2 linked regions of the Homo sapiens genome follow. Each later gene encodes a partner of the first gene's protein in a complex. Each region holds a gene or a part of one and is shown on either strand. Other genes may lie near its edges. The genes, in order: AAK1 and PDLIM5.

The links.
Region 2: the proteins of AAK1 (region 1) and PDLIM5 are in contact, whole or in part, in a crystal structure (PDB 9F6S), measured with the Homo sapiens proteins. Residues at the interface, in NP_055726.4 of Homo sapiens: Asp956, Leu958, Ile959, Asp960, Leu961; in NP_006448.5 of Homo sapiens: Ala12, Pro13, Trp14, Gly15, Phe16, Arg17, Leu18, Phe24, Gln67, Ile70, Lys71.

The regions. Positions count from the first base shown.
Region 1 is NC_000002.12:69,503,513-69,519,662, forward strand, and holds part of AAK1 (AP2-associated protein kinase 1), read right to left. Parts: intron 15,729-16,150; coding exon 15,442-15,728; intron 13,535-15,441; exon of another isoform or gene 13,239-13,534; intron 11,238-13,238; coding exon 10,959-11,237; intron 5,952-10,958; coding exon of another isoform or gene 5,949-5,951; coding exon 5,719-5,948; intron 4,067-5,718; coding exon 3,909-4,066; intron 2,162-3,908; coding exon 2,057-2,161; intron 1-2,056.
Region 2 is NC_000004.12:94,442,120-94,458,130, reverse strand, and holds the start of PDLIM5 (PDZ and LIM domain protein 5), read right to left. Parts: upstream 6,190-16,011; 5' UTR 6,136-6,189; intron 2,885-6,135; 5' UTR 2,843-2,884; coding exon 2,747-2,842; intron 2,313-2,746; exon of another isoform or gene 1,888-2,312; coding exon of another isoform or gene 1,573-1,887; exon of another isoform or gene 947-1,572; intron 1-946. UniProt on the Homo sapiens protein: May play an important role in the heart development by scaffolding PKC to the Z-disk region. May play a role in the regulation of cardiomyocyte expansion. Isoforms lacking the LIM domains may negatively modulate the scaffolding activity of isoform 1.

The sequences.
Region 1 (16,150 bases):
GTTTTGTTTTTGTTTTTGTTTTTTTGAGACAGGATCTCACGCTGTTGCCCAGGCTAGAAAGCAGTGTTGTGACCTCAGCTCACTGCAACCTCTGCCTCCTGGGGTCAAGGGATCCTCCCACCTGAGCCACCTGAGTAGCTGGGGCTACAGGTGTGCGCCACCATGCCTGGCTAATTTTTGTATTTTTTGGCAGAGATGAGGTTTCACCATGTTGGCCAGGCTGGTCTCAAACTCTTGACCTTAAGCGATCTGCCCACCTCGGCCTCTCAAAGTGCTGGGATTACAGGTGTAAGCCACCGCACCTGTAATAATTTTTAAAAATTATACTTTAACAAAATTAGCTGGGCATGGTGGCACATGCCTGTGATCCCAGCTATTTGGGAGGCTGAGGCAGGAGAATCGTTTGAACCTGGAAGGTGGAGGTTGCAGTGAGCCAAGATCGCACCATTGCACTCCAGCCCCGGCAACAAGAGCGAAATTCCGTCTAAAAAAAAAAAAAAAAATTATATTTTAGGAGCTTCTTTAATGATGTAGGAGATATGTGCCAGGTTCATTAAGTGAAAAAATTAGGCTTCAAAATATGACTATAAAGATGCATATCAGGTTGGGTGTGGTAGCTCATGCCTGTAATCCCAGCACTTTGGGAGGCCGAAGCAGGCAGATCACTTGAGCTCAGGAGTTCGAGACTAGCATGGCCAACATGGTGAAACTCCATCTCTACTAAAACTACAAACATTAGCCGGCCATAGTGGCATACACCGGTAGTCCTAGCTACTTGAGAGGCTTGAGGCATGAGAATTGCTTGAACCTGGGAGGCAGAGTTTGCAGTGAGCCGAGACTGTGCCACTGCACTCCAGCCTGGGCGACAGAATGAGACTCCATCTCAAAAAAAAAAAAAAAAAAAAAAAGATGCATATCAGAGTCTCAGAGTCTTAAGCAGGGGGCCAAAGAGTGTACAAAATTGTGGTCATATGGCTGGGCATGGTGGCTCACGCCTGTAATCCCAGCACTTTTGGAGGCCAAGGCAGGCAGATCACCTGAGATCAGGAGTTCAAGACCAGCCTGGCCAACATGGTGACATCCCGTCTCTACAAACATACAAAAATTAGCTGGGCATGATGGCAGGTGCCTGTAATCCTAGCTACTCTGGAGGCTGAGGCGGGAGAATCACTTGAACCCAGGAGGCGGCGGTTGCAGTGAGCCAAGATTGAGCCATTGCACTCCAGCCTGGGCAACAGAGCGAGACTCCATCTCAAAAAATAAAATTGTGGTCATGTGTATTCTGGTCAGGGAGACCTATAACTTTCATTAGATTCACAAAGATATCTGTGACTCTCAAAAGGTTAAATGCCTCTAACAGATATCAAGATAGTATCCCTAGACTATCTCTTGGTCGTGAGGTCATGGAGAATTTTAACTTTCTTCTCTATAAATTACTAACTTTTATATAATCAAAATGTATAATTTTTTATTAATAGAAGGGAAAAGTTTGTCTCTTATGATTGCTTCTATACTTTTAACAAAGTCTCATTTAAAAAAACCTCCCTCCTTTTTTAGAAGTCTCATTAAAAAATACCTCCCTCCTTCTCCCCAACAGCGTGCGTGCGTGTGCGCACACACACCCACACACACACACACACACACAGTTTAGAGGAGTGTTAGCTATAACAGAATATTTAATTTTTAAAATTCTTCAAGTAATCTCAGAAACCTAAGAAATTACAAGCAATGAACACTGGGTGTTTCTTAAATCTAGAAATATTTGTTTAAGACGTGCCTGTGGACTAGAGAGAACAAGTCCTGCATATTACTGCCAGACTGTCCTGCCACTTTAATTCAAAGTGGTTCTAGATCTTTATCCCTTTTTGATCAGAAAGCTTTTGAATTAAAAAAAAGTAAATTTTAAATTAAATAGACCATGAAAAACATATATATATATATACACGGTACTGCCAGGATTTGGATTTCACTGGCATGCTAGAGTTATCTGTGGAGTAAAAAACAGTGTGAAGGTAACAACAGTGAACCTCCCGTTCCAGGTATTTGCCATACTAACCAGTTCCAGCAGAAAATGAGGTCGTAGCAAAAGCATCACCTTGGGTTGATTGAAAGCCTGGGATCAAACTCTCAGCTGAGCCTCCAAGCTTCTCGGGATGTTTGCCTGGAGAGACAAAACACCACTCAGTTCATTCTAGCAGAATCTTGCGAGGCACACACACATGGCAGAGGTAAGGGGCATTCTCTGAACTGACTTCTGGACTTGACTACTTTTACTGCATTATGGCGACACATTCAAAGGTCCTTGTCTAGTCATTGCAATAACTGAGAGAACGGCTGAGAAAAAAAAGGAAATTGTTAAGAATCAAAAGAGAGCATGTCATCAGTTTTGCAAAATGAAAAGCGTTCTGGAGATTGGTTGGTTGCACAACAGTGTGAATGTACTTAACACTACGGAACTGCACATTTAATGCCTCCCGCCCTCACTTGTAATCTATTCACTTTATACAGCTCTAATGAGTTTGATGATCTGCTTTCCATGTTGGAAGCAGTTTAGGAGAGCAAATGAGAAGAGGGAGTGGTGGAGATGGCAATAATGAGACGTTATGAGGGACAAGCATAATGACAGTAGCTTAATGTGAAAGCTGACAGCTGAACAGTAAGAAAAGGGAGAGGAAATTATTAAAACTCAGGGGCTAGTTATTTGGGTACAAAACTACTACAATTTTCAGTAGTCTATAGAGGTATTTCTATTTACAGTCCAGAATAACAACTGGTATACATAACAATGAAACAAAGTTGCCAAAAAAGTTAAGTACTATGCCCTATCTTCTGTTTAAAAAAGCAAGAAAGTAATAGGAATTTTTTTCAACAGACAGGGTCTCACTCTGTCACCCAGGCTAGAGTGCAGTGGTAAATTCATAGCCCACTGCAGCCTCGACCTCTTGGGCTCAAGTGATCCTTCCACCTCAGCCTCCCAAGTAGCTGGGACTACAGATGTGTGCCAGGATGCCCAGCTAATTTTTAAAATTTTTTGTAGAGATAGGATCTTGGCATGTTGCCCAGGCTGGTCTTGAACTCCTGGGCTCAAGTGATTCTCTTGCCTCAGCCTCCCAAAGTACTGGGTTACGGGCGTGAGCCACCACACCTGGATTGGAGTTTTAAAAGATTTCTATAAAATGATAGTTAAAGCCAAAATGTTTGGCCAATAGTTCATACCACTCAATTGGTTCTCATCATTCCTTTATCCTGCGCCCTTATCTACATTGAGAGTACTTTTTATTAGAGTACTCTCTAACATTATTAGAATTATTAGAATTATGCATATTAGAATTTGTTCCAAAGTGTGTGCATGTGCCTGTGTGTGTGTGTGTGTGTGTGTGTGTGTCCTGCCTTCCAAAGTAGACTGTTCTTCAGGCAGAAGTATATCTTCTATTTATTTAATCATCTTTCTGTGTAGTACAGTAATACAGAACTCTGACTATAGTGAAAGAAAGATTCAGTGTCCATGTGAAGGCACATTCATGGACAAGCAGTGGCAACTTTCTGGGACAGTAAACCAACCTAGGATGAGAGAACCATCACACTCCTCCAAGGAGGGACCATGCCTGATGCTGTTATCCTGGACTATGTCACAAACCTTTTCTACAAGTTTCTTCCCTAAGCATCACACTCTCCTTGCTACCACCCACAATAGATCAGGATTTCCTGAAGATGAGGACTTCAGGGCCCATGGTAAAAATAAAAACTGACTTGTATGCATACTTTGAAATCAAGCCTTATGCAAAGGCCCAAGCCTACGTTTCCACATGCATACCCTTCTAGAGTTACGATTCTTTCTCATTCCTGGTTATTTCTTAGCACAGAGAATCTATAATCAAGAAGCACAAAAAAAGACACAGCTTACTCACCTTCCCCAAGCTTGGCAAAGTCCTTGTTTAGCAGTTCTTCAGCTGTGAGTTTGGAGAAATTATCGTCATCAAAGGGATTCCACGTAGACCCTTCTGAAGGATTATAAACGTTTTGTTGAGAGGTCCGAGGAGAGCCTGATGGAGTGGTGGTTGCAGACCTAGGTAGGTTCCCACCCCCACGAAACAAAAAGATATAAAAGTTGAACAAAACAAAAAGGGTCAACTTATTTTCTCTGTTTCAGAATCAAATTATTTTCTGGGTCAAACCATCATTTTCCACCACAGTATTTTTTTTTTTTTTTTTGAGTCAGAGTTTTGCTCTTTCACCCACGTTGGAGCACAATGGCGTGATCTCGACTCACTGCAACCTCCGTCTCCCAGGTTCAAGCGATTCTCCTGCCTCAGCCTCCCGAGTAGCTGGGATTACAGGCGCATGCCACCACGCCTGGCTAATTTTTGTATTTTTAGTAGAGACAAGGTTTCAACATGTTGGCCAGGCTGGTCTTGAACTCCTGACCTCAGGTGATCCACCTGCCTTGGCCTCCCAAAGTGCTAGGATTACAGGCGTGAGCCACTGCATCCAGCCCACAGTGTTTTCCTAAAAGGGCTTTCCACAGCACCTGAAGAATTTCCGCAGATACCCATTCCACTTTGTGAAATGAATGTCTCCTTTCCTTCATGACTCACTACCTCCCACTACTTCCTTAATCTCTTGCTTAAGTTTTCAGTCTTATCTGCAAGTTGTTTCAGTTCAGGATCTAAAAGCAACCTGTTCTTAGACTTGTGTATCTTGTGGTGACCACCATAACATCCACAATAACTGACCTCTGGAAGGGCAGGAAAGAGGTCTATTTAGGCTGCCTCTCATCTCTCAGGATCCAGCATGCATAGAGTTAAGGGCCACCATCACAATTAAAAAGAAATAAAGACAGTTACCACTACTTTGTGCATCTAAGTATCATTATATAATTTTCTTATAAAGTCTCTCTTAACTTCATTGAAAGATTTTAACTTTAGAGTGTATGGTTCTAAGACAGTTAAGGGTCTGAAACTGCATTTACTCAACACTCATCAAAATCTACTTGTCAGGCACAGAACCAGTCACTGGATTTCCAAAGGTTGACTAAGACATGGTCATTGTCTTGGAGAACTCACAAACCAGTTCGGTCAGACATACAAATAATTAACGACAACACAATGTCATATAAGCTCAAAAAAATGTTCAGACAAAAATTATACATCATATCAGAGGAAGGGTCAAGGAAAAGTCAACCTCTGACATGGATCTTGATGAATAAATGAACATTCCCTAGGTGGGCAAGGAGGAGCATAGCAGTCCCAGGAGAGGGCACAGGAGGAACAAAGGGCTCGGGAAGGTGAAGAATGGCAAGTCTGCCTGTGAAACACAACAGGCCCTGCTATGTTAAGCAGTGTGCTCAGCTATCATGAGGAGCCAGTGAAAGACTTTTCAGCGTGGAGAGACTCGGTCAGATCGAGAGTTCAGAAAACACACTGTAGAGCATGGAACAGGTGAGAGAATGAGAACAGTGGGCCAAGTAGGAAAAGATTTCTTAAGATTAGTATGGCCCATGCACTAAAGACAAATTCACAGCTGCTCATTAAACACAAGTACATGCAAGATGAAATGAGCCAGAAAAATAAACAAACCAGAAAAATAAACAAACACAAGTACACACCACTGTATTTGCATTACACACATCTACACACTTATGCAAAGAATCACACACTAACAGCCGCAGGCAGACTTTGCCCACAGAGGTAAGAACAACAAAGAGGAAGCACCACATACTTGGACTTATTGAGACTGGCCTCAGCTGCAGCTGCCTGGAGCAGCTGGGTTGATTTGCTGGCAGGGACCCCAAAGACTGCACTGTGGGTTACGTCACTGAGAATACGCCTGTGCCCAGCACGTTGGGTTTTGGGGGATGAGGGTGGAGTGAGAGATCCAACTTTCTGCCCCTGGACGGCAGGAGGTGGGGTTGTCTGAACCTTTGGCTGTTGTCTTACTGGGGCTTGAATCTGCTAGGAAGAGAGACGGAAAGTGTTTCATTAAATTAAAAAAAAAAGTTAAAGGAAAAACAAACAGATAAGTGTAACAACAACAACAAAAAATGCCACATAAGCACTAACATGAAACTCACATGGCTAAGTTTATCAATAATGCCCAGAAAGAAAAATCCAGGCTTTGACAATCTGTGCTGCAACTTTGAGACTGATAACAACATGGTATTTGCCTGATACACATAAATTTCAATCTTTATCAGCGATAATATATAGGGTAACCATATGTTAACCATATTCAGCTCAAAGCATAAGAATGCAGAAGCTATTCCAGCTGTAAAGATCTAGAATTTATCATAAAGGACCACTTTCTATTTCTGGAGTCACATACAAACTCATTCAGAATGCTTTCAAAGGGCAAGCAATAGATCCTATCACTACAGGTAAAGGCCAATGAAGACGTATCTCCAGCGAAACACATTTAAGCTGAATGATTTCTGCTAAGAGATCCCTCACTCTCTGCCATAGCGAGACCACAGGTTGGGAGTGAGTCAGAGAAAATTCTACTGTGATTAATAAATGTTACTGCTCGTTTGTTTTGAACTTTTATTTTAGGTTCGGGGGTACATGTGCAGGTTTGTTATACAGGTAAACAGGCAAACTCGTGTCACGGGGGTTTGTTGTACAGATTATTTTGTCACCAAGGTACTAAGCCTAGTACACAAGAGTTATTTTTTCTGATCCTCTCCCTCCTCCCACCCTCCACCTTCAAGGAGGCCCCAGCGTCTGTTGTTTCCCTCTTTGCGTCCATGAGTTCTCATCATGTAGCTCTCATTTGTAAGTGAGTGCATGTGCTATTTGGTTTTCTATTCCTCCAATAGTTTGCTAAGGATAATGGCCTCCAGCTCCAACCATGTTCTTGCAAAGCCTCCATCCTCCTTCTTTTTTATGGCTGCATAGTATTCCATGGTATATATGTACCACATTTTCTTTATCCAATCTCCCATTGATGGGCATTTAGGTTGATCCCATGTCTTTGCTGTTATGAATAGTGCTGCAATGAACATACACATGCATGTGTCTTTATGGCAGAACAATTTATATTCCTTTGAGTATACACCCAGTAATGGGATTGCTGGGTTGAATAGTAGTTCTCTTTTTAGCTCTGTGAAGAATCGCCACACTGCTTTCCACAATGGTTGAACTAACTTATACTCCCATCAAGAATGTATAAGCATTCCCTTTTTTGTTTTGTTGTTAAGGCTCTTTATTTCACTGATGGGATGGGTATATAAGATCCTATTTCTGTGGCAACTCCTAAGAAAATATGTAGCATTAGTTTAGTGGGATTAACTTGTTTCAATCTTCAGTTTGGACATAATATTGAAGAACTGGCAGAGAATATAAGAAGAAGAAAGAAAAAAAAGGTCCTGATGATGACTGAGCTAATAATACAAGGACTCTTGTGATGTGGGCCATTTTCAAAACAGGCCAAACTGCCACCACAGAACAACATACCGGTGAGAATATCCTTGTGACCACATGAGTGGTCCTTAAGCATAAGTCACCTATATCAAGGAAAATGAACAAAAAATGTTAAGAAAGCCACCCAACCCCTTTCCTTTACACTATCAACCTAGAGATAAAATAACTTTGGATATAAAATGCCCCAGGTATTTCACCATCCCTTCCCTCCAGTCCCTCTTCTCAGATTAGAGTTGCTGCTCCATGCTGCAACTCAGTTCAGCTGCAGTCTCAGTGTCTACAAAGGCAGGCCCTGAGACAGTTTAAGGAAACTAGACTATCCAGCTACCTGGGTCAGGATGCTTCTAGCTTGGGATATTGACTGCCCTCATCTTGTCCTCAGGACTTGGAAAATTTATTAAGGTAGACTATGTACACATGTCAGTATTCCATCCACTTAACCAACAGGCTGAATGTTACAATATAAGGTTCTAATATCAATCAGAGGTTAGAAGGGTAACAAAGCTGCCCTGCTGAAGGAGAGGCAGAGTGCTCTGTGAAGACAACCACAGCTCCAGCTCCACAACTTCCTCTGGGGGTCCAGAGTTGTGCCTGTAACAGCTGGCTGAATACTACCACACATAGGGGTCAGAGGGCTTTGAGGATACACTGAATGGGCTTATTTCATGAGACATTCATTAATCTGAAAAGAATACTAAACTGTTGGGTCCCTTTATTTTGAAGAGTCCAGTGACAACTCTATTCTGAGATGAAGGACTGGAGGGAAGGGATGGTGAAATCTCCAGGGCATTTTACATCCGAAGTTGTTTTGTCTCGAGGTTGATGGCATAAAGGAAAGGAGTTGGATAGTTTTCTTACCACTTGGAGAACATTTTTCTCTTCTGTTCTCCAGATGCAGCACACTGAAGATTAGATGCCTCCTTCAGGACACCTTGCCCTATAACAGCAATCTACAGACACTAAGTGGTTTGTATCTGTTCAGCTACGCCTCCCAGCAACCCTGGCAGACAGTTATACTTCCACTTAGAATCAAAGAATGTGAGAGTTTAAAGGGACCTTAGAAAATGCAGATTTCAACTCCTGCACTGAGGCCAAATGCTCATTCAAGGTCACAGGGTTAACTGGAAGCAGAGCCCATGTCTCCTGACTGTGGCTCAGGACTCTTTTCTGCCCCATGATGCCATCCCATCCAAACAGGATTGGAAAGTGGGAGGAGGGACAGAGAGACCACGGGAGAAGGAATAAAAAGACTCAGATGTCTATTTTGCTGACGATTTTTTAAAAATGTAATTATAAAAGGAGTATAATCACATCAAGAAATGTAAGAATATAGAAAACAGACTTCTATTCCATCACTCTAATACAACTAGATACAATCCTTATCTTTTTGGTACCTTATACTTTAAGTCTCTTTTCAAGTGTATAGTTTTTCCGTAATTTCACAATTCCTTTAACATTACCTCATGAGCATTTCTTTTCATACTGTTGTACAGACTTTATAACCGTGCTTTTTAATGGCTGCACAGTTGGGTTTCTCAGCAATTTAGGTTGCTTCCAAATTCTCTGGGCTATTATTAATAAGACTGCAATAAACATCTAGGGCAAATGGCCATTTCCCCTTTGCTAATTATTGCTTTAAGATGGCTACAGGGTACGCTTTACCTTCATTCACTTGCTTCTTTAGATTAGCCCTGCCAAGAGTCAGCGGAGACAAGGATGGGTCAAAGCTGAGAAGCTCTATGGCTCCTGGCCAAAGCATGGTCTATTTCTGTTTCCTCTCTGTCCCCAAAACCAACTATCCCAGAGCAAAGTGTTCAAAGTGTTTTTTCATCCAAAGAACACGGAGAAAGTTCATAATTCATTCCCAAGGGAGTAGACACTTTTGTGTAGGAGAAGCATAGGGGAACCTCATAAGAAGTGTAGTCAGTAGTAGTTGATCATTTTATCACCCTGGATGAGCATTTGTTATAATTAAACTTAAACACAGATCAGGATTCTTTGATTCTTGCCCCAGCTCCACTACCATCAGTTCGTATGTCTTGGGCAACCACTTTCTAGTCTATGCCTCAGTTTCCAATTCTGTAAAATGAGGAGGCTGAACTGAATAATTAAGGTCCCTTCTAGCTATCTCATGTACTAATTTTTTTAAAAACTCTTTTTCCATGAAGAAGAGGAACTTTACCTCTTGTTAAAAATACAGAGACTCACTGTCTACTCCATGCCTGCAGGAAGTCTGAGTTGTTTTAGAAACGAAGGTGTAAAGACACTAAACACACACTTAGCTAAGACTTAAAGAAGACAATCTACGGCACTGCTTCCTTTCGAAGCGATGTAGGTTTTCTGGTTTAAGATGGGAGACAAAACTCTATTAGAAATCAATCCTCAGAAAGATGGTTTCTTTTTTTTTTTTGAGATGGAGTCTTGCTCTGTGGCCCAGGCTGGAGTGCAGTGGCATGATCTCCACTCACTGCAAGCTCCACCTCCCGGGTTCACGCCATTCTCCTGCCTCAGCCTCCCGAGTAGCTGGGACTATAGGTGCCTGCCACCACGCCCGGCTAATTTTTTTTTTGTATTTTTAGTAGAGACGTGGTTTCACCACGTTAGCCAGGATGGTCTCGATCTCCTGACCTTGTGATCCGCCCGCCTCGGCCTCCCAAAGTGCTGGGATTACAGGCGTGAGGCCACTGTGCCCAGCAGAAAGATGGCTTCTTACTTTTCCTTTGTTCCTCTAGTAGTTAGACTTCCCTGGGAGTAACAGGGTAGCTGTGACACTCTACCAGCTGGGTATGCAAAATGTCTTTTTCTAACACCATAACATTTTCTATCACTATCACTCAGAAAAATAAGAGTACAGAAAAAAATCCACTTATCACAGGCCAAAGCATGATGTGCCCGTGTGTGTTGAAACTGTAGAGGACAATCAGACGAGGGGTTCTGATGCCATACTCAGCCAATATCTAAAAGTGGACATGCCCAATTTCTAAATTGATAAGATGGCTCAAATGACTGGATACTCAGATGCTCTGGTACCCAGGGGGATTACACCAGGGTGAATGGTCTCAGGTAAGCAGGCCCTTGACGGGAGCTGCATGGTAAACTTAAATAATGTGATTAGTAATGTCATCCAAGACAAAGAATAAACACAACATGGAGGACCCAGGGCCTGGAAAGGGCACAATGGATCAAACTGCCCCTTGAAGAAGAGAAAGGGATTAGCTTTAATCCTGCCTAGGTCCTTGACTGTTCAAAGTGACACAGACAGAGATGATGAACAGATCTTCCTGCTAGCCTAGTTTCAGAGTGATAAAAATTAAGAAGGCTCTTCATCAGTAGCCTAGAATCCTTTTTTAAAAAAACCTCTATCTTCTATAGAACATCCATACTATTCTTGGATATATCAAGGAAAGATCAAATAATTGAACCACCCAGGTGGGAAAGCAACCTGGACCCTCATCAGCTGCTGCCATCTTTCCCACCCTTCCCCTAGCTCTCGCTGCACATTCCTCTGCTGCTTTTGTGCTCTGAGCTCTGGTTGATTCTTACCGCTGGCTCCTGGGCAGGGGCTGGCTGTGGGGCTGCAGCTGGCTGTGGCTGGGGCTGCTGTCCTGCTGCCATAGTGGGCTTTTGCTGCAAGGCAGCCTGCTGAGTCATCAGCTGTTGTTGATGCAGGGCTGTGGCCAGCTGTTGCTGTTGCTGTTGTTGTTGCTGCTGCTGCTGCTGCTGGTAGAAATTCTGCATTAGCTGCTGTTGAGAGCCTCCTTGGGACACCACAGGGAACTGAGCAATTGCTGGTTTCTGGGTTGCTGGATGTACTGCCTGAAACTGAGCAAGAAATGAGGAGATGAATAAGGGCCTGTCCCAGAATAATAGTCACAAAAGACAAATGTCTCAAAAACAATGAAGACCAGTGCTAAAGCCAAAGGCAAGGGCAAGTAGAAAAGTCTTGAGGCTAGGCCTAAAATCTCATGATAGAGACCTCAGGGAATTAAAATACAACACAGCAGCAGTCCCTTACACTGCTAGGCTCCATCCATTGCACCAGGCTGCCTCCTGCACTACAGACTGGCCTTCCAAGTGGGTTTCTGGGCCTTGCCTAAGGGAAGCTATCTGACTAAACATCATGTGACTCCATAAGCTAGAGTATAGCAGGAGCTAATAAACGATCTCCTAATCATAGAGGTAATCCTTCTTATAAAGGGATTTGAAGTAGCCAAGATTAAAATGCTTCCCTACCTGAACAGGATGAAGCAATGATGACACTGAAAAGAATAACCTAAATGTTAACTCAACTATTAAGACTCATCTCAAGTCTTACTAAAAATTATTTCCCAAGAGCTCCATTTTTATTAAACTTCCTTAAACATTCAAAATAGCCAGTGTGCTCTATGACGCTTCCTTTTGTTTGTTTGTTTGAGATAGTGTCTTGCTGTGTTGCCCAGGCTGGGATGTAGTGGTGCAAGCAATCTCGGCTCACTGCACCCTTGACCTCCTGGGCTCAAGTGATCATTCCACCTCAGCCTCCTAAGTACCTGGTATCACAGGTGCACACTACCATGCCTGGCTAATTTTTTTTCTTATTTTTTGTAGAGACACAGTCTCACAATGTTGCCCAGGCTGTCTCGACCTCCTGGGCTCAAGCAATCCTCCCGCTTCGGCCTCTGAAGATGCTGAGATTACAAGCATGAGCCACTGTATCTGGCCCACACTTCTTATATGTCTCTCTAATCCCCACTGTTAGGGGCTATGTGCTACATACACAAACAGAGCTCAAAATAAGGGCCTGCTGATGAACTAAGGTCAACACTGTATCTTTGAACATCCCGTATACTTTACGTAGTTATTAGAGTCAATTGGGAGGATACTGTTTGTCTACTGGGGCAAAGTTAAAGGGTTAACAAATTAGAAGATGTCAAAAAAAAAAAATAGCTGCCTACTTATAACAGCAAAATACTGGAAACAACCCAAATGTCTATCAACAGGAGACTGGCTGATTAAATATTTATGATAGATATATCCTGAAGGAAATATCTAATAGAATACTCTCAAGTTGTAAATAAGAATGAGCAATACCACTATATATGGGTTGGTGGGGATGGACTTTTGCAGATTTAACTCTGAAACTATGTAAATGTTTCACATATCCACAAAACAGAATTAAACTAAAATTTAAAAAGCAATAACTAAAAATCAAAAGCAAAACAATGCATATAAACCGGTGTATCAAATTGGTAGCTGAACGCGCCAGAAAATAATGTGCTAAACATTCTAAGGGTAAAATGGGCAAGGAAATCTTAAACTGTTTTCAGTAATCATATGGTTATTGCTATCTTAAAACGATAGAACAATTAATTATCTATGTTAATGCTGTTAAGAATCAAGATTTCCAGAAAAAAAAAAAAACAACAAAATCCAAGAAGTTAAACAGAAATCCAGTAATTACAAATCCAAATTAGGAATATAAATCCGAATTCATAATGCCTATTCTCCAACAAAACAAAACAAAATATATTTTCTAATTGTCCACTGAGAAGGCCTAGAAACAACAAGCAATCCATTAGGCAAATGGTATTTCTAGCATCAAAACTGTGGTTTCTAAACATTATTTGCACTAAAAAGAAACAGAGCTCCTAAGAAAAATGGATGATTTCAAGTTGAGGGCAGCATGATCCTAGAGGGCAGCATGATCCTAGATAGCAAGGAAATCATTAAAGACCACTGGAGTTACATTCAAAGGATTTAGGAGCCAATTTGAAGAGACTTCCACTGGCCAAAGTTGGGGCAATCTGAGCTTTAAAATAAATACATTTTTTAAAACTGCAATATGCCAGGCATGGTGGTGTGCACCTGTAGTCCCAGCTACTCGGAAGGCTGAGGCGGGAGGATCGCTTGAGCCCAGGAAGTCAAGGGTTGTAGTATGCTATGCTAGTTGGGTGTCTGCACTAAGGTCAGCATCAGTATGAGGACCTCCCGGGAGCAGGGGACCAGTAGCCTAAGGAGGGTTGAACCAGCGCAGATTAGAAACGGAGCAGGTCAAAACTCCAGGGCTGATTAGTAGTGGGATCCTGCTTGTGAATAGCCACTGCACTCCAGCCTGGGCAACACAGCAAGGCCCCACCTCTAGTAAAAACAAAACAAAAAAAGCAATGTATTCAAAGATATCAAATATGTTAAAATCTAAGAATTCCTAATGATACTAACTAAACTAAACAAAACAAAAACGTCACTGTTCACCTTTGGATGACAAGAGGGAACAAATTTATTACTCTGAAAACCAGTAAACAAAAGGAAAGAATCAAGTGTTTTTCCTGCCTTTTCTGTACAAACAGTACCTCAGGGTAGCTAAAGAGCTGATGAAAAAATTTCTTCATGGAAAACGTCCAGCCCTCAAATGAAGAGGGAATGTTAGAATATCACTGTGCCATCCCTGATGAATTAAGGAACTTGGCAAATGATCAGTGATACCTGCTAAGCTAATGGGGAACATTAAACAAATGGATCAGACAGACAACACCTCAATACACCGATTGATCTTTTTTTCTTCCTTTTTTTAAAAATATTTTTGGGAAACGCAGTCTTCAGGGAAATCTGAAAGTACACGCTCCCTGATCTTAATATCAGTGAAATAGAGGCCAGAGAGACATTACAGACCTCCTGACATGATGCAACAGGAAGAACAAAGAATTGTCAAACTGAATCAAATACTGAGTAAGCCTCGAGAAATTACCAGTGTACACGGAAGACGGTCAGACACATCAAATGACACCATAGCATGCAATCAGCTAAACCCAGAATGCCAAAAATTCCAAGGGACAAATAATCCAGTTTCTCCGAAAAATTAAATGACAAAAAGCAAAAAAAAAAAAAAAAAGAGGAGAGGGAACCTATGGATAAAAGGGGACTTAAAAGATATATCAGCCAGCAGCCGCATAGGCTAATGTGTGTAATTCCGATGATTTGGGAGGCTGAGGTGGGAGGATGGCTTGAGGCCGGGAGTTTGAGACCAGCCTGGGCAAAATAACGAGACCCCCATTTCTACCAATAAAAATTAGCCAGGCATGGTGGCACATGCTTATAGTCCTAGCTACTTGAGAGACTCAGCTGGGATGATCACTTGAGCCCAGGAACTGGAGGCTGCAGTGAGCTATAACTGCACCACTTCACTCCAGCCTGGGAAACAGAGCAAGACCATACCTCCAAAAAAACAGATATACTCATCATTATAAAATGAATACATTCATAGTAAAAAATGTGAAAAAAATATATGAAAAGATAATGGAAAACAATATAGACCAACTAAATACAATCTGTTAGTATTGGATACTGATTCAAACAAGCCAACTTAATTATGAGATATCAGAAACAGTTAAACACTAATGGATATTTGATAATAAGAAACTATTGTTATTTTTTCCTCTCTTATGATAATGGTGTTACAGTTGTATTAGAAAAAAGAAGAAAAAAAAGCAGTCCTTAAAAAAAAATAGTTTTTTTTTTTTTTTTTTTTTTTTTGAGACAGAGTCTTGCTCTTGTTGCCCAGGCTGGAGTGCAATGGCACGATCTCGGCTCACTGAACCTCTGCCTCCTGGGTTCAAGCGATTCTTCTGCCTCAGCTTCCCAAGTAGCTGGGACGACAGGCTTGCGCCACCATGCCCAGCTAATTTTTGTATTTTTAGTAGAGACAGGGTTTCACCATGTTGGCCAGGATGGTCTCGATCTCTTGACCTCGTGATCCACCTGTCTCGGCCTCCCAAAGTGCTGGGATTACAGGCGCGAGCCACTGCACCCGGCCAAAAAAATAGCTCTTGTACTGATGTTCCTCAATCAGATGACAGATTCCTCATGGCCTGAGTAAAAGGGTGAAAGGGGTGTGAGTGATGGATCCGCTTCTCAATGCTTTAGTATCTACATCTATGAGAAACAGTGATGTAATGTTTAATGGCTCTCTGGGAAGACACCTTTACCTAGTGGGCCTTTTCACAGTCATGACTCAGATATGCAAGCAAGGGCCACACTCTGACCACCTTACCTGCTGAGTCTGGGCCTGCTGCTGCTGGTAAAACGTGCCTGCCGGCTGCTGCTGTGCTGGCGGTGGCTGTTGCTGCTGCTGTTGCTGCTTGAGGAAGAGTTGCTGCTGGTGCTGGGGTGTGGCCTGGGCCTGAGCGGGCAGACCCTGGGCCTGAGTAGAAGGCGTCTGCTGTGGAGTGGGAGGAGCCTGTGGCTGCTTGGCCTGAGTTTGCGGCAGAGGCTGGCTGGGTGGGGCTTGGGGTTTTGGTTGGGGAACACTGGCTAAAAGGCCAGGCTGATTGCTGGATCCTGCAATGAGAATAAAGTCCATGTAAGGGTTCCAAATGCTTCCACACAAAAATGGCTTTCTGTCTTGCCAAAACAACTAATAGGGGGTGACAAGTGTGCAGAGTATCTCAAGATTCGTGTCCTCCTCACTGTCTTTCCACATGCTCTGTCCCACCTGGAATGTCTTTCTATCTTCTTGCTAAATTATGTGCTTCAAATTTTTCAAAACAAGGTTCAATATTGCCTCCTTAAGAAAGTCTTCCCTTATTAATCATCCCATTTAGTCAATTACAACTTTAGTTGGCACCCCAAATGTCTACATATTCAACTGGCCTTTGGTACATATGCACAAGCTTTGCCCCTCTTGGCATGCAGCATGACAACATCATTCCCTGGTGTTCTACATGTAGCTTATCCCAGTCTGGATGCGTGGCTATAAGTAG
Region 2 (16,011 bases), on another chromosome or scaffold:
ATTAGTTATTAAACGCAAACCTTTATTAGGCAATGTTACTAGGCATATTTAAACCACACAAGGGGTTAAAAATAACTACAATGAAAGGCCAAGAGCCTAGCAGCCCGATTGAGCCAACATTCCCTTCTCTCCTTCCCCTCCCCTTCCAATCCTCTCCAGTCCAGAATGAATTGCATGCCCCACTGCACAAGGCCCAAAAAGGTCACAGTAGATGGCAGAGACTTTTGTAAGAGAACAGAAATAACTCAGCAGCTTTGTTACCATAGTCTCTTTTAATCAGTATGTTCAAAATCCTTTAATTAGCACTCTGTCTACACAAGGAAAGCATTTCTTCTGTGCCAGGGGAGGGCACATATGTATGTACACAGTGTTCTGTTGTATCAGCATCACAACATGGAGCTAGTACCTCAAACTGTCTGCCAGGAAACTGAAGCACATGAAACTTTTTTAAAGACACGGTACCACAAAATTCGCAAACATACTCTATTTGCATTTCTATTACCACACAACAAAGTGATAATTAAGTTTGGCTCATTTAGGTGTCAATTTGTTTCTGAACTTTTTTTCAGCAAAAAAGTAAGCATTTAAACTAATAACTTTCTTTAGATAATTAAAGTAGAATATTTAAAATATAAAATGCTAACAAAACGTAAAAACCAATAATACTCAAAGATTGCTCCTGTTCCCATAATAGATCATCAGTAGAAGAAATAAAATACCAACTCACTCAAACAGGAATAAATCACATGACACATTTTCACATGGATGCTTTACATTTAAAATTTCATCTAACCATGAAAGGTGTTAAAACTTGCAGGCTGGATTACATATATATACTTCCTTATAAAATCTAATTAACTGAAATCAAGGCAGAAATTGATGATAAATTAAAGATAACTTTAAAAAAATCCACAGCCAAGAAACAAAGGAGACTCCGTTAGTAAAATGGGATTTGCAGTATTTTAATAAGGATATTTAGGCGTTACAAACTTATTTTTAATCTTTCAAAATGAAGTTGGATACACATACAAGATGCAGAGTATGTGTGTGTATATATATTTATACATACACATATATTATTAACCAAAATGACAATCTTCTAAATATCTGATTAAAGAAACAACTAACTAAATTTAAGGTAAAGTGAATTATTAAAGAGGCAGCACAGCATAACTGTTGGAAAGCCAGCTCTTCCATACAGTCATGTGAGCGCACAGCACAGTTATATACAATGGGAATAATATCACTATTTTGCATGTTGGTATGATAATTAAATGAGATGATGCATTCACAGCACTTGATAAATATCCAAGTTTGTTGGTAAGACTGGCACAAAAATAGTATTTTCATGCGTTGCACAAAAGTGTAAATTGGCACAACCTTTCAAAATGACGTAGATACATATATTCACATATATATGTATGTACTTATATTTGGTATTCACTGTACCACTGTAACAGTAATATGGAAATGCCACAAATACTCTTCAGTAGGGGATTGGTTAAATGTCACTTTCCTTATAAAATAAAATTATACAATTGTTTTAAAAAAACACACATACCTCCTTATATATTAATAGAGAATGATCTCAGGGTAAATTGTTGCAAAAAAAAGCAAAGTATAAAACAGTGTGGGCCAGGCACGGTGGCTCACGCCTGTAATCTTAGCACTTTGGGAGGCCGAGGTGGGCAGATCACCTGAGGTCGGGAGTTCAAGACCAGCCTGACCAACATAGGGAAACTTGGTCTCTACTAAAAATACAAAATTAGCCAGGCGTGGTGGCACATGCCTGTAATCCCAGCTACTCGGGAGGCTGAGGCAGGAGAATCGCTTGAACTCGGGAGATGGAGGTTGTGGTGAGCCGAGATTGCGCCACTGCACTCCAGCCTGGGCAACAAGAACAAAACTCTGTCTCAAAAAAAACTGTGTGTATAATATGCCACCATTTGAGTAAAAGAAGATGGAAATTCATATTTATTTGAATATGCAAAAACAAACCTTTTAGAAACTTATATAATAGTAATAATTACCTACTGGTGATGAAAGTGAAACAGTACCTGACATATAGTCAAGTCTCAATAAATAGAAGCTTTAATTACTCCTCTCATCAGTGCTATCATCATCATCATGAAAACATATCCTTAAAATATATACACAGAATACATTCAAACTAAATCCATAATGAGGTAAAAAGCCAAATCTCAATTATTCATAGGCTATCTAGTTGGAGCTCCAAGCCCTTCATTTCCTCTTCAAGGGTAAGTAGCTTTTGGCCATCTTACTGTTGGCTATCACCTCCACCAGAAAGTGAGCTGAGGAAATAATTCCGAAACAATCATTTTATTCAATTTTGATCAACAGTTTTTAACAAACAGCTTTTGGAACTGAAAGAGATTATTAAAATCCCATAGCACAACCTTTGAAAATTATATATGAAAGAACGAAGATTCAGAGAATTCCCCAAATTAGGGACAGTTCAAAAATGTACAGTCTGTTCCTAGTTAAATGCTTTTTCCATTTTATTATTGATAACATGGGGGAAAACGAAAAGAAGTTAAATTGAAGTCAGTTATCCTTGCTAAATCTACTCCCCTCATCCTTTATTATAGATAATCAAATTTGCCAAGATCAAATCCCAGGAGCAATGATAATAAGTAGAGTACAGGTCAACAGAGAATTAAACAACTCAGCCCGAGGACTAAGCACTGAATGAACATCTATAATAAAATTTGTAAAGTTTACTTACACTAGAGATTGTCAGAGGCATGTTGAAATCCTTACCGCCCTGCAGCCGGAAACCCCAAGGAGCTGGGCCAACCAGTGACACACTGTAGTTGCTCATGGTTCTAATGGCTCAAAGTCCAATGACAGAAAATGAAATATGCTGTGAAAGAAAATCAGATGATTAGCAAAAATGTTTACTTGAAACCCTAGAACATAAATTATGTTTAGTATTTTGTTTGAGGGGGGTGAGAGGATATAGAAGATAAGTCTTAATTAAGTTCTTCATTAATTTCAGTTTAAGAAAAGCAATCTGTGAGCTAATATAAATTTTCTACACTCATGGCAATTTCCATGGTCTAAAAATTCCATATCAGAATACATTTCTAGACACTTAGTATGTTTCACAACTTGCTTCAATCCAATTTTGTGGCTTCTTGCATGCAAAGTTTAACTCAAAGTACTTTACAATACTTCACTAATGTAGCAAGATTTTATTTCAGGTTGAATTCAGAATAATTTTCTCCTTCCCTCCACTTCATGTATTCTTTTGTCTGCAATTGACAAGAGTCTTTCAACTGCACTTACTTAAATTCTAAGTTACTCTAACATGTGAAAGAGACTGCAAATCAGTAGGCTCCCATTCATGCTTTCCAAATACTAAATTCTTTACAATGAGAAGCTGTTTTTCAATGCACAAAACTATTCTCTCCAATCATGAACTACAACTTGTATTTCCTCCTATGGGGACATGGTATTTTCCACACTTAAAGTGATATCTACTTTTCCTTCAGATAGTCAACGATAGGCAATACTCTAGTACAGTGATGTTAGTCACAACCTGCTTTTTGTTTTATACACACACCTCACCAGGCAGAGAGTAAGCATTTGCCACTCAGTGAATAAGATTATGACTAAATACAGCAAAAGTGCTGGGTTAATGCATTCAAATGGAATTGGCAGTTTAGAAAAGAACCAGTGCTTCGGTGCTTTCTTTTGTCTGTTCTGCTGTTAAGTGTGCGTGTGATGACTCTCCTAGTAGTACTTTCATATAATTTTTAAAAAGCAAAAAAAAAAAAAAAAACTTCGAGTTTCCTATTGGTTGTTATAACGGCAGGAGACAGAGGAATGAAGTTTTCTTTTGTTTTAATGGAATACTAAGAAACAATAATTCTCTCTCTTTAAAAAATATTAAAAACATAACAGATATGTAATTTTATATTAAAAACATACTTCCTTGGAAAATGTAAGCTATTCAACCAAATCACCACCTAATATTACCTGTCTTAAAATATGTTTTAACCCATTCAAAATTTCTAGCCCATCACCCCAAATTCATAGTTGCAGATATAGATATTTGAGCCATAGGTATATTTAAAGCAAACATTCCTTCTTCTCATAAAGGGAAAATGGGGCAAAACATTCAAATAAGCCTGGTTTTTAAAGAAAAATTATATCAGGGAAAATAAAAATTACAGAAAATTGTATCAGAAACCGAAACAGCTTTTCTACTGGCGTGGTAGTATACTGAACTACAAGGCAATAACACATTACTTCAGTAATGAAGTAATAGGCACAGAGCACTAAAAAAGATCCAAAGGCCAAGCCGGAAGTCAAACTGTATATATAGGTGAAAAACTACTAGTGGGAAGCTAATAACGAGCCACACATAATTCAATTGCTTTCCCGCTATAAAAGGAGGAGATTTTCAGAAAACTAATAGAAGGACTGTCCTGATATTGACACGATACAAATCAGAATCGTGTAAAGCCAACTGATATTTCACAGGCAGCCTGCCCTCCTTTATTAATCTTTAACTTGTGTCTGGGGAATAATATGAAAGTTGGGCTCAACTTCCTCTGGCCCCATTCTTCCCTACAAGAAAATGTATTTCATTTAGATTATCAACCCATGTACTTGCAACTTCCCTTTACTTGGGGATTCCCTTCCTAACTTCTCTCATTTGTTATTAAAATTCCTAGCACTGGCAAGGTCACAGCCACACTACAAAACCAGTGTCATTTCATTTCTAGTCACTGTCCGTTCATTTCTAGATGCTTCTTCTGCTAGCTTCATTTGGAATTCATCTGCCTTAAAACAGTCTCTGCCCCAAGCAATGGCAATATTTTTATTGGCCTTTCCAAGACTCCTCCATCTGGTTATTAGTGCCCAAGCCCTTCCTCAAATACCAAGCAGGCAGGAAATAGCAGCATACTCTTTCAAACACGTCGAAAAGGTTGGAATTTCTGTAGAGTTATGGATTTTCTTTTAGGGAAAGTCTAAACAATGTCTTTGCTCTAGTACTAGGGAAGGAAGCTTGGTATTTCCCACACTTGTATCTCAGCTTCATTAGTGGGTGAGAGGGGAGAAAGGAGAACTCAAGATGAACTACACAGAGTGACAAAAAAAAAGGCCTGAAATTAAAGAGAAATATCTTGAGATTCTCTTTCCCCGCAATGGAGAGAGAATGTAGGTAGAGCTGAAGAACTAAAGCCACAGGCACAGGATGAAAGCAGCCGACAGGACAGTTTTCCAGGAGGGATTCGCGCCTAGCCTTGTTGGCCAAATAAGGCTACCGAACGGGCCGTTTCCGTGGCAGGCGGGTTCAGACGTCCTCCCCGTCAGGAAGGCGGACTTGGGATAGGATCTGGCGATCACACCCTAAATCTGCCCTGCCCAGCGCCGCCACGAATTTTCCTTCCAAGCTCTGCCCTGTCCACACGCCCTTCCTTTTTCCACTTATTGTAAAACGCACCGAAGGCACAGTCTTACAAAAGCCCCAACAAGTACTCAAGTGTTAACAAATCTCGTGTTCATGACAAATGTGTTTCTTAAACGAGCTTTATTTCTGGACGCGCAGAAGTTTTCCCCAAACAGGTTACACAAAACTGTAAATATCTGGGGGAGAAATAAATGCTTCTCAGTAGCCTGGGAGCAAAGAAAAACTAACGCGCCTTTTCCTTTGAGTCCCGCTTCCTACCCTCCAAGAGACTGGCGCAGGACTGGGCACTCAGACACCACACCACGGTGGTGCCGGGCGACGCCGGCAGCCGGGTGGGTGGGAGCGGCAGTGCCCGTCCCTGCCGGCCCTCGCCACCTCCGGGCGCCCTCCCGCGTCCCCGTCTCCGCTACGCTGGTCCCGGTCGGCCCGGGCTGCGGGGACCCCAGGGCTCGCCCTCTGGCCTCATGCGGACTCCAGCGCTGCCCTTTTCCGGGCGCTCCTTTTCCCAAGCTGCTCTCCCACCTCCGCCGCTCCGCGCCCAGAAAGCACCTGAGGAGCCATCCCTGCCCGAGGAGCGCCCCCTCCTCGTCCCCAACCGGGCTTCCCTTCTCGCGTTCGGCGCACAGCGGCCGGTTCTTTCCCTTCTCCCACCGGAGATCCGAGAGGCGCATCGCCGGCCGGCCGCCACTCACCTCGGGTCCGGCGCGGCGCGGGGCTGCCTCCGCCTCAGACAAGGGCTGACAAGTGACTCGCGGTGAGGGCGCCGTCCCCACCGCCCGCGGGAACTTCCGCCTCCTGGCTCTCCCTCGCCCCACCCCCGACCCAGGACACGCCCCTCCGCTCCCGGCCACGCCTCTGGGCCAGTCCCAGCCGCGCCGCGCAGGGGCGGGGAAGGTGGCGGCGGCGCCGGGCGCTCGGGCTTGCTGGGGCTGGCTGAAGCAGCTGCGGAAAGACAACTGCGCTACCGAGTTTCGGTGGGAGTAGTCTTAGCGGATTTTGAGCGCTACCTGGCAAAGGTCTAACCCTCCGCTCGTCCGTTTTGTAGTGGGTGCATTTTTCTCTCCAGAAATTTAAATTGGCAAGCAGTTGCTCTGCCTAAAAATAGAAGGGTACTTTGGATAAATCTCTATCTATGCAAGTTCAGCGGTTACTGCCTGCGTTTTTTTTTTTGAAAGAGCTTTACATGCTCTGAAAAGTGCAGACCCAGAAGTTTACCTGTCAGGAAGGTGAAAACCAGTAACCCTAACAGAAGTTAACCCTGTCCATCACACCAGAAGACAGTGATACATAAAAGCGGCCAAAAGTGATTCAACCACTGTATCTTCAGTTTATTTTTCTAAATCCAAATCAATAGTCCACTTTCCAGCCTTCTATAGGGTTGCTTGATACGCCCGAGGAATTTATTCATAAGAAAACGTGAATAATGTTCACTGAACATACGGAAAGTAACTAGACTGTTACACTGTGAATTGGCTTATAAAACGTGAAAAGGACAATTCTTAACCAAGGAGCATATAAAGCAAGGATGAACTTCATGAGGTCCGTGAGCTCCCCGGCCCCCAGAAGTGCAAGCAAAATTCCAAAGGCGAAGATCCAAAGCTGCTCTTTCCCTAACGGTAGCCACTGGCCACATGTGGCTATCGAACAGTTGAAATGTGGCTACTGTAACTGAGACCATGAATTTTTTGTTTTACGTAATTTTAAATAATTTAACATTTAAAACTGAAGCAGGATAACATTTCTTTACTTTTTTTTTCTTTGAGACGGATTCTTGCTCTGTCTCCCAGGCTGGGATCAGTGGTGCAATCTCGGCTCACTGCAACCTCCACCTCCCGGGTTCAAGCGATTCCCCTGCCTCAGCCTCCTGAGTAGCTGGGATTACAGGCGTGCGCCACCACGCCCGGCTAATTTTTTGTATTTTTAGTAGAGATGGGGTTTCACCATGTTGGCCAGCCTGATCTCGAACTCCTGACCTCAGGTGACCAACCCGCCTCGGCCCCGCAAAGTGCTGGGATTACGGGCATGAGCCACCGCGCCAGGTCGTTAACATTTCTTTTAAGCACTACATTTAAGGACTAAAGTTGAAAATATAATGCCCAAATTGAAATGCGTTGGAAGTGTAAAATGCACACTGGATTTCGACGACTTGGTATGAAAAAATAATGTAAAATGCCTCAATAATTTTTATATTGATTATATGCTGAAATCATCATATTTTATGTTTTGTTAAATGATACATGATTATGGCCGGGCGCGACGGCTCACGCCTATAATCCCAGCACTTTGGGAGGCTGAAGCGGGTGGGTCACCTGAGGTCAGTAGTTCAAGATCAGCCTGGCCAACATGGCGAAACCCCGTCTCTACTAAAAATACAAAAATTAGCCGGGTGTGGTGGCGCATGCCTGTTATCCCAGCTACTTGGGAGGCTGAGGCAGGAGAATCACTTGAACCCGGGAGGTAGAGGTTGCAGTGAGCCGAGACCATGCCACTGCCCTCCAGCCTGGGCGACAGAGCAAGACTCCGCACCAAAAAAAAAAGAGTAATAATAATAATATTTGATTAAAATTAATTTCACTTTTTAAAAAAAATGTGGCCACTAGATAATTTAAAATTACTTACGTGAGCAGGGTGCAGTGGCTGACACCTATAATCCTAGCACTTGGGAGGCTGAGGTGAGAAGATGGCTTGAGGGCAGGAGTTTGAGGTTAACCTAGGCAACATAGCAAGACCCATCTCTAAAAAAATCCAAAAAATTAGCTGGGCGTCGTGTAGTGTGCCTGTAGTCCCAGGTCCCAGCTATTTGTATTGCTGAGCCCAGAAGTTCGAGGCTGCAGTGAACTATGATCTTGTCTTTGCACTCCAGCCTGGGTGACAAAGGAAGACCCTGTTTCTAAAAAAATAAATAAATAAAATTACATATGTGCTTCACATTATATTTTCATTGGACAGCACCAGTCCATAGCTTTCACCACATTTTTCAAAAGATGGCTTTGGGGGAAAGTGTTTCCTAGTGTGAAAGCTGGTTTAGAGAGTCTAATATATGTTATCATGTTTGACATCTCACCCAAAAATAAAAAAAAAATAACAATAGCTACCATTAGCAAATACCTACCATGTGCTATGCAGTGTGGTAGTCCTTACAAGAACTTTATAAAATGAATGTCATCCTCATTTATAGATAATAGGTCGCAAGCAATTACAGCTTCTGCCAGTTCCACAGGGCCATGGCTCGAGTTAACCTCTAGGAGTCCCAACTCTGCCCCTTCTCATCTGTTTGCTGTTGATACAGTTAAATTGATCCTGGATCAACAAAGATTAATTTAAAGACATCAACTGCAGATAGCCTATGGAGTTATCACTAGAGGATAAGCTTCTTGAGGTGATGAGGAAGAGTTGAGAATGGGCAGACTGTTGCTTACTTATGCAAATTCCACTTTACCCCATAATTGCTAGCCTGTCTCTGAACCTCCTCCTACTACTGCAGTTTAAATCCTGGGCTACAGAGTAAATTAACCAAATTAAGTTGTCTTGCATAGACTGATATTTATCCAAGTGTCCTAAAAAGGACCGATTGCATCAAAATGACACGGATAGCTTGTTAAAATTGCATTTTCCTGGATCCCCTCTGGACTCAGAATCCTTGTAGGTGAGCCCTTGGAATCTTTTTAACAAACACTCCCTCCCCACCTCCAGGTAATTATTAAACTGCAGTGCTTAAAAACTACTTCCCTAGAGATAGTGCTATGTCTCCGGTTTAATGTGCACTGTGCTCAGTTAAGAACCATGCATTCCAGATGGTAGCAACTTATCTGTTTCCTCATCTTAAAGGAAATGATCATTGTAAATAACCTTGTGAGATTATCATGAGGAATAGAGATAATATATATAAAACATTACACAGCATGCTTCGCACCAAGTAAGGATTAAATAAATGGTAGCCATATGAAAACTTTCCTAACCAATTGATTAGATTTATTTGTGTATCATAAAAAACAAGTAGAGAACTTTGACTTTCATTATCCAAGTACTATGTTCTTGGTGCCCTATGTACATTATTCTACTTAATTCTTACAACCATATAAAGTAGACTTTTTTCAGAGGAAGAAATAGAAACTTGGAGATTAAGACATTTAACCTAGGGCACACGCCCACAGCTAATCAGTGATGGTAGTAGAGCAAAAGGTCTGATTCCAAAAACCATGTTACTTTCATCGCAACACACTGTCTCTTGGTAAATTCAGTAAGCCATCCAGACCAAAGACCTGAGGAAGATGGAATGCTTTCGAAACTAACACTGCTGAGGGCCATAGAGGTGTAAGCCATAGCAAATTATGGAAATAAAATAACTGCTGAGTAATTTGTATATGAGGGAAGATGAAACTCCTGAGCCACTTCAGGAGGACATATGCCTTAACTTGTTTTATAATGAATTGCCACGGGGCCATTCTGACTCCCCTTGTCTGTTTCCCTCATCACTAACATTTATGAAATGGTTGGCCATGGTCTGAAGGACAGCCTGTGACTACAGACGATCAGAAGTTACTGGTCCATTGGGAAATCAAACCAATGTCCTTGGCCTCATTAACTCTATAGGGCTAAGTAATGAGGCACTGACCACAAAGGAAAACATATTAAAAGCTTCATTTTATCATAATCAGGGAAAGAAAAGCTGGGTTGGGGGGTGGGGGAGAAAGAGATCAAAAGATTAACTTACTTAGCAGGAAGAGTTTTTAAGAATAGTCCCTCTAAACACAGTATTTACCTAAGCATATAAATGTTTTCTCTAACATTTTATTATCCAATCTATGACTCAGAACCTCTTGTAGCACTTCAAAAATAACAGAAACTTAATTACAACATGACATGGCTGTGACAAGTTTTTACAGTTGCACCCAATAAACTATGAAGTGCCAGTCTTTTAAAAGTTCCTATATTACTGAGTCAATTTATCTTTTAAGTCCTAATCCTGGAAGGTAAATAAACCACTCATGAGCATTTAAATTTTAAAATCTAGAATGGAAAAGAAGCATTAACTATTCTAATAACTAAAGAAACATTTGGTAATTTAGGGAGAAAAGATAGAAGGCACAGTGTCATTCTAAAGTTTACTAAAGAATCCTGGGAGAAGGGCAGAACTAAATCAGGCATGGAGAGAGTGGAAAGGAATAATGGAAAAGAAAGACTGTAAGAGCAGATCCGTGAAGCCTAGGGTAACTGAGAAAATGTGTAATTGAGGAAGAAGGCAAAGTTTAAACTAGCCTCAGGGATTCAAGTCTCAGTTTGGTGGGTGGTATTCATAACTGATATTGACTGAATGGAGAGGAGCAAGGAACTATGCATTTTACTGGCAGTTTCTAGTAAGGAAAAAAAAAGGCAATTGGTTGGTTAGTGAGGGGTAAAAATAAGAAGGATAGATAGGATGGACACTGAAAAAAGGTATCAGAGAGTCCCAAACTTGAGATTTCAGAAGTAGAGGAATATTCCTCATGATAAGATCAAGGTTCAGTCAGTCTGATGTTTTACTCAGATAAAGTCAGTTCACTGAGGAGTCCGGTGAGTGGTTGAGAGGATAGAGAATATGTAGGAGCGATTTTGGAGATGAGATGGAAACTAACATGTGGGTCAATAATTGTAAAAATATGTTATATGAAGACATTACAGTAACTACTCCATTATATTCAGAAGGTACATTTCAAGACCCCTCGTAGATGCCTGAAACCAGAATAATACCTAACCCTACATATACTATGCATGAATTTCTTTTTCATTCACTATTTCATGGATAGAAGATTCATTCTTACCATAGATCTTAGTAACTTCAGCATACAATTTTTTTATTTCCTTATTAAGTCAAGAACTTTCACCTTTTCACTCAAAGGAAGTGATTTATGGTTTCTCTTTGGCATGTCCGAAATACCAGCATCACTACTTTTATGCTTTGGGGCCACTATTAAGTAAAATAAGGATTACTTGAACATAAGCACTGCCATACAGGGACAGTAGAACTAATAACCAAGATGGCTGCTAAGTGACTAACAGGGTGGGTAGTATATGCAGCATGAATATGCTGGACAAAGGAATGATTCATGTCCTGGGTGGGATGGAGCAGGACGGTGTGAGATTTCATCACACTACGCAGAACAGCATGCAATTTAAAACATGAATTTTTCTAATGGAATTTTTCCATGGAATATTTTTGGACTGCAGTTGACTATGAGTAACTGAAACTGCAGAAAGTGAAAACATGGATAAGGGGGGACTACTCTATTTTAAGAACATTAAAGTAAGAAATGGACCTGGAGCAGAATTTCCCAATTAGTTGATTGTGCCAAGAAATTAATCTTCTCAACCTGGGAGGTGGGGCATACTGGAATTGGAAGCCTCATCCATTTCCCCAGTTTCCAAGTTTGCCTTGATGTGAAAAGAGTTGAGAAGCACTGTGTTAGGATACCAAAAAGAGATAAATGAAAAGATCATTAGCTTTATGTACTCATCATAATGCCTTCCATGTTTCTACTAACGAGTTAAGAAAAATGTGAAAAAAAAAAGGACACGGAGAATGCTCACTGTGATAATGCTCAGTTAGAAAGATCTTACTTATAAAAGGTAGTAGTAGAAGACACCCTGCTCATACCACTATACAGAGTCCTTTATTAAATTATTTTCAATTAAACACATTTGAGTATACCATCGATTTCCTCTCAAGACCCTGACTAACACATTATAGGTGACTCTTTTAATCATCAACACCTTTGCATAAATCACTAAAATGCTATGCACTCTTATTTAGTGTCTATCATGCACCAAAGATATAAGTGATGTCAAAAGCAAATTCATATGTTGGAAAAATATTGGAATTTTTGCTTTTTGGATTTTTTAAATTGCTGACTTTTTAAATTAGACACTTTATTTTTTAGAAGCATTTTCATTAAAGTGGTATGGTATAACCCACCATCATTTAAAATCTTGAAATAAATATCTTTTTTTTTTTTTGCATTATCAACTTTCTAACCAATAAAAGAGCTAGTACCAACTGTGAATATTCTGAATCACAAAATTTTTTTTTTGAGACGGAGTCTCACTTGCCACCAGACTGGAGTGCAGTGGGGCGATCTCAGCTCACTGCAACCTCCACCTCCCAGGTTCAAGCAATTCTCCTGCCTCAGCCTCCCAAGTAGCTGGGATTACAGACACGTGCCACCAAGCCCAGCTAATTTTTGTATTTTTAGTAGAGACAGGGTTTCGCCACGTTGGCCAGGATGGTCTTGATCTCTTGACCTCGTGATCTGCCTGCCTTGGCCTCCCAAAGTGCTGGGATTACAAGCGTGAGCCACTGTGCGCCTGGCCATTAATTGGCTTTTAAATCTCAGTTTGGTTTTTGGTCCCGAACTACTGATCTAATCTTTGCTGATTCATTAGATAGTCTTTCTCATTTCTGGATTTAGAATTTCTGAAGCTTTTCCATGGATCTTTCTATCAATAGCAGGGCTTTGAGGACATAATTATTAAGAAGGCAAATGTACAAATGAGGTCTTAAAGTAAGTGGCATTTTGGATTAGAAAGGTCCTTGGAGAAACCTAATCTTAACATGCGTTATTTACAGGAAAATCTCTCCACTCGAAAAATAGCACCTCTACTAAGTGTTTTTAAAATCCATTTATATACTCTGGGAAAGCAAGGAAACTAATATTTTGGTTGGAAGGTACCCACATTTATAGTCATAGTGGAATGCATTAAGGCATGTCATTCCTAGCCAAAATGTAAGGGATATAGTCCTAAGAGTGATGAATCAATGCATTAAAAATCTGATTAAAGCATAGAATTGTTTCTAAAATAAGAAGTACTATGAAAGAATGATTGTGGATCAATAACATATACTAAAACTAGACTATCCCACTGATAATATTTAATTTACACATCACAAGAAATTCTGCCAGTCTGTGCAATATGCACATACCTATCAACATTTAATTTCATAAAATTAATTCTGGGAGTATTCTCAAAGCCACTTTCTCTCAGCTGTGAAAAGTTAACAGATGAAGAAAGTAAGCAAGACAATTTTTTAAACTATGGGATATGAAACTGGAATCTAAATATTTTCATGATCTGATTATTCCACATGACAAAATGTTTTCTAAACAATACTCTAGCCAAAGTTTGAGGCCTGCTTCTTCTCAAAATTTAAAGGTATGAACAAAATAACAGGAGTTTTGCTAGGTATGAATAACAAAATCTAACCATTTTCAGTTAAATATTATTTTACACATTAATGCTTACATTTTAAAATTCATGGAAAAAGTGCAACTATAAATGTTATCAATAGTTGCCCTCTAGGTGGTGAAACTTGCTGTCATTTTATTATACTTCTATTTGCTTTTTATACTTTCCAAATTTTCTATGAAAATATTTTACTTTTATAATAAACTAAAAATTAGGAGTAGCAGTATTAGTACATATCAATACACATAATGTTGTTATATACACTTACTTTGGTTATAAAAATTCATATACATATAACAAATACCTGTGGAACAAATGGGAATTTTGAATTATAACAATTTCTTATTAAACATTTAATAAAAGCTAAATACTCTTTTGAATCCTTCGTATATATTGACTTATTTCATCCTCACAGCAGCCTAGATACTTACATTATAGTTTCTTCAGATAAGAAAATGAAGACACAGGGTTAATGTAACTTGCCCACAGTTGTTCATCTAGCTAGTATAGGCAGACGCAGGTTTTAAAGCCAGACAATCTGCCTATATGAGTATGTACTTAACTAAAATACATGGCTGCTGTTACAGAGTATATTATGGAAGTTTGTATCTCTGGAATTCTCTTTTTTTTTGAGACGGAGTCTTGCTCTGTCGCCAGGCTGGAGTGCAGTGGTGCGATCTTAGCTTGCTGCAACCTCCACCTCCCGGGTTCAAGTGATTCTCTTGCCTCAGCCTCCCAAGTAGCGGATTCAGGATCTAATTCAGGATCATAAACTTTCTTGACTATTTTTATGTTTTGCGTAAGTGACACACAGCATTAGGTAAACTACAATAAGGTAAAATGATTAATTATAATAAAAGTCACTTCAGGATTGGGAGCTAAATCCCTAAATCTCATTGTGAAAAATATTTACTCAAATCGTTTAAGCTGAAACCCTTATTTCTTTTAAGATTTATAGCCTTTCCTACAGAAAGGGGGCTCTTGATAATAATAACTTATTTTTCAGTATGCGAAAAAGCAGAAAAATCAAATTTAAATCTTCACAGAATGTTTGGTTTTCTCTATGAATTTCTTCTAGGAAGGAAAATATGGGGACATATATATGGTTGTTCCATTAATACCAGTCAAACATCCAAATTAAATCTAAAAAATAAAATATTTACAAGTTTGGTCTAGGTAGAACCAAACTATTAGACATTTTAATTATGTAATTTTATTTTATTTTAAAATTTAAACCGAGTACTTGATATGGACACACCTTAATCAATCTTCATAGAGCAGTCTTAATCACTTATATTAAATGTTAAAAGACAATTTTGATAATTTTTTAAACAAACACTGTGAACACACCAGTTAAAGAAATACAAAAAGAGTACTGTGAAAAACATAGGCAAAATAAATACCACATTTTCCAAATTAACATCAATTGAAACATGTATTGGACCGATAAGTCTCTGGAAGAGATTTAATCTTCCAGAGGGGGGAAAAAACTAAAGACATTTCTAGTTTTCTTTATATTTATCTGGTCAGATTCCTTGACAAATTCTTGTTGTCTTGTTATATTTAATATAGTTTTATATTAATTTATAATTTATATTATTTAGTAAATTTGTTATTTGGAAACATATTATTAAATGTATATATATAGTGGCAATTAAATCAGTGTGTCATCATTTTAGAACTTAGACCCTGTAACACTAAAGTGTTTCTAGCCCAAAGATGGAAATATATATAAATTTTGGGGATATATATAAATACAAGGGGATCGAGACCTTGCATAAAAAAAAAAAAAATCCAGCTTCTGATTCTTTCATCAATACAGCAGAAACACATTCCCCCTAGGAAAATAAAAATGCTACCTCTTTAAAAACACTTCAACATGATTAGCAAGGGCAAATGAGTAACAATCCCTCCTAGAAAAGAAATGAGTTGGTTCATTACAACTGGAGCCAAAGTATCAACTGCTATACCCAGATCCAAATATAGTGCCTTCTGGCACAGAAAGAACTCAGAGCCAGAGGCAGTACTGGTGGACACCTGATAGCATTGCCCAAGTAACTGGAGCTAAAGTTTTACTTGTTGTGGAGACAAATACACCGAAAATCCAGGCAGAGAACAAATCACATTACCTCCATTTTAGAAAGTACTTTGAAGATGGATTTTAAATCTCCTGGTATGTCTTGTTGTTTGTTTTTTGTTTTGGTTTTACTTTTTAAATTTTCAAAAATACACAAAATAGAATACTATAATGAACACTCAAGAATAATATAATGAATAGCCTCAATAATTACCATCAATAATATAATTTACTTTTGGGTTTTTGTTATTGTTGTTTGGTTTTGTTTTTT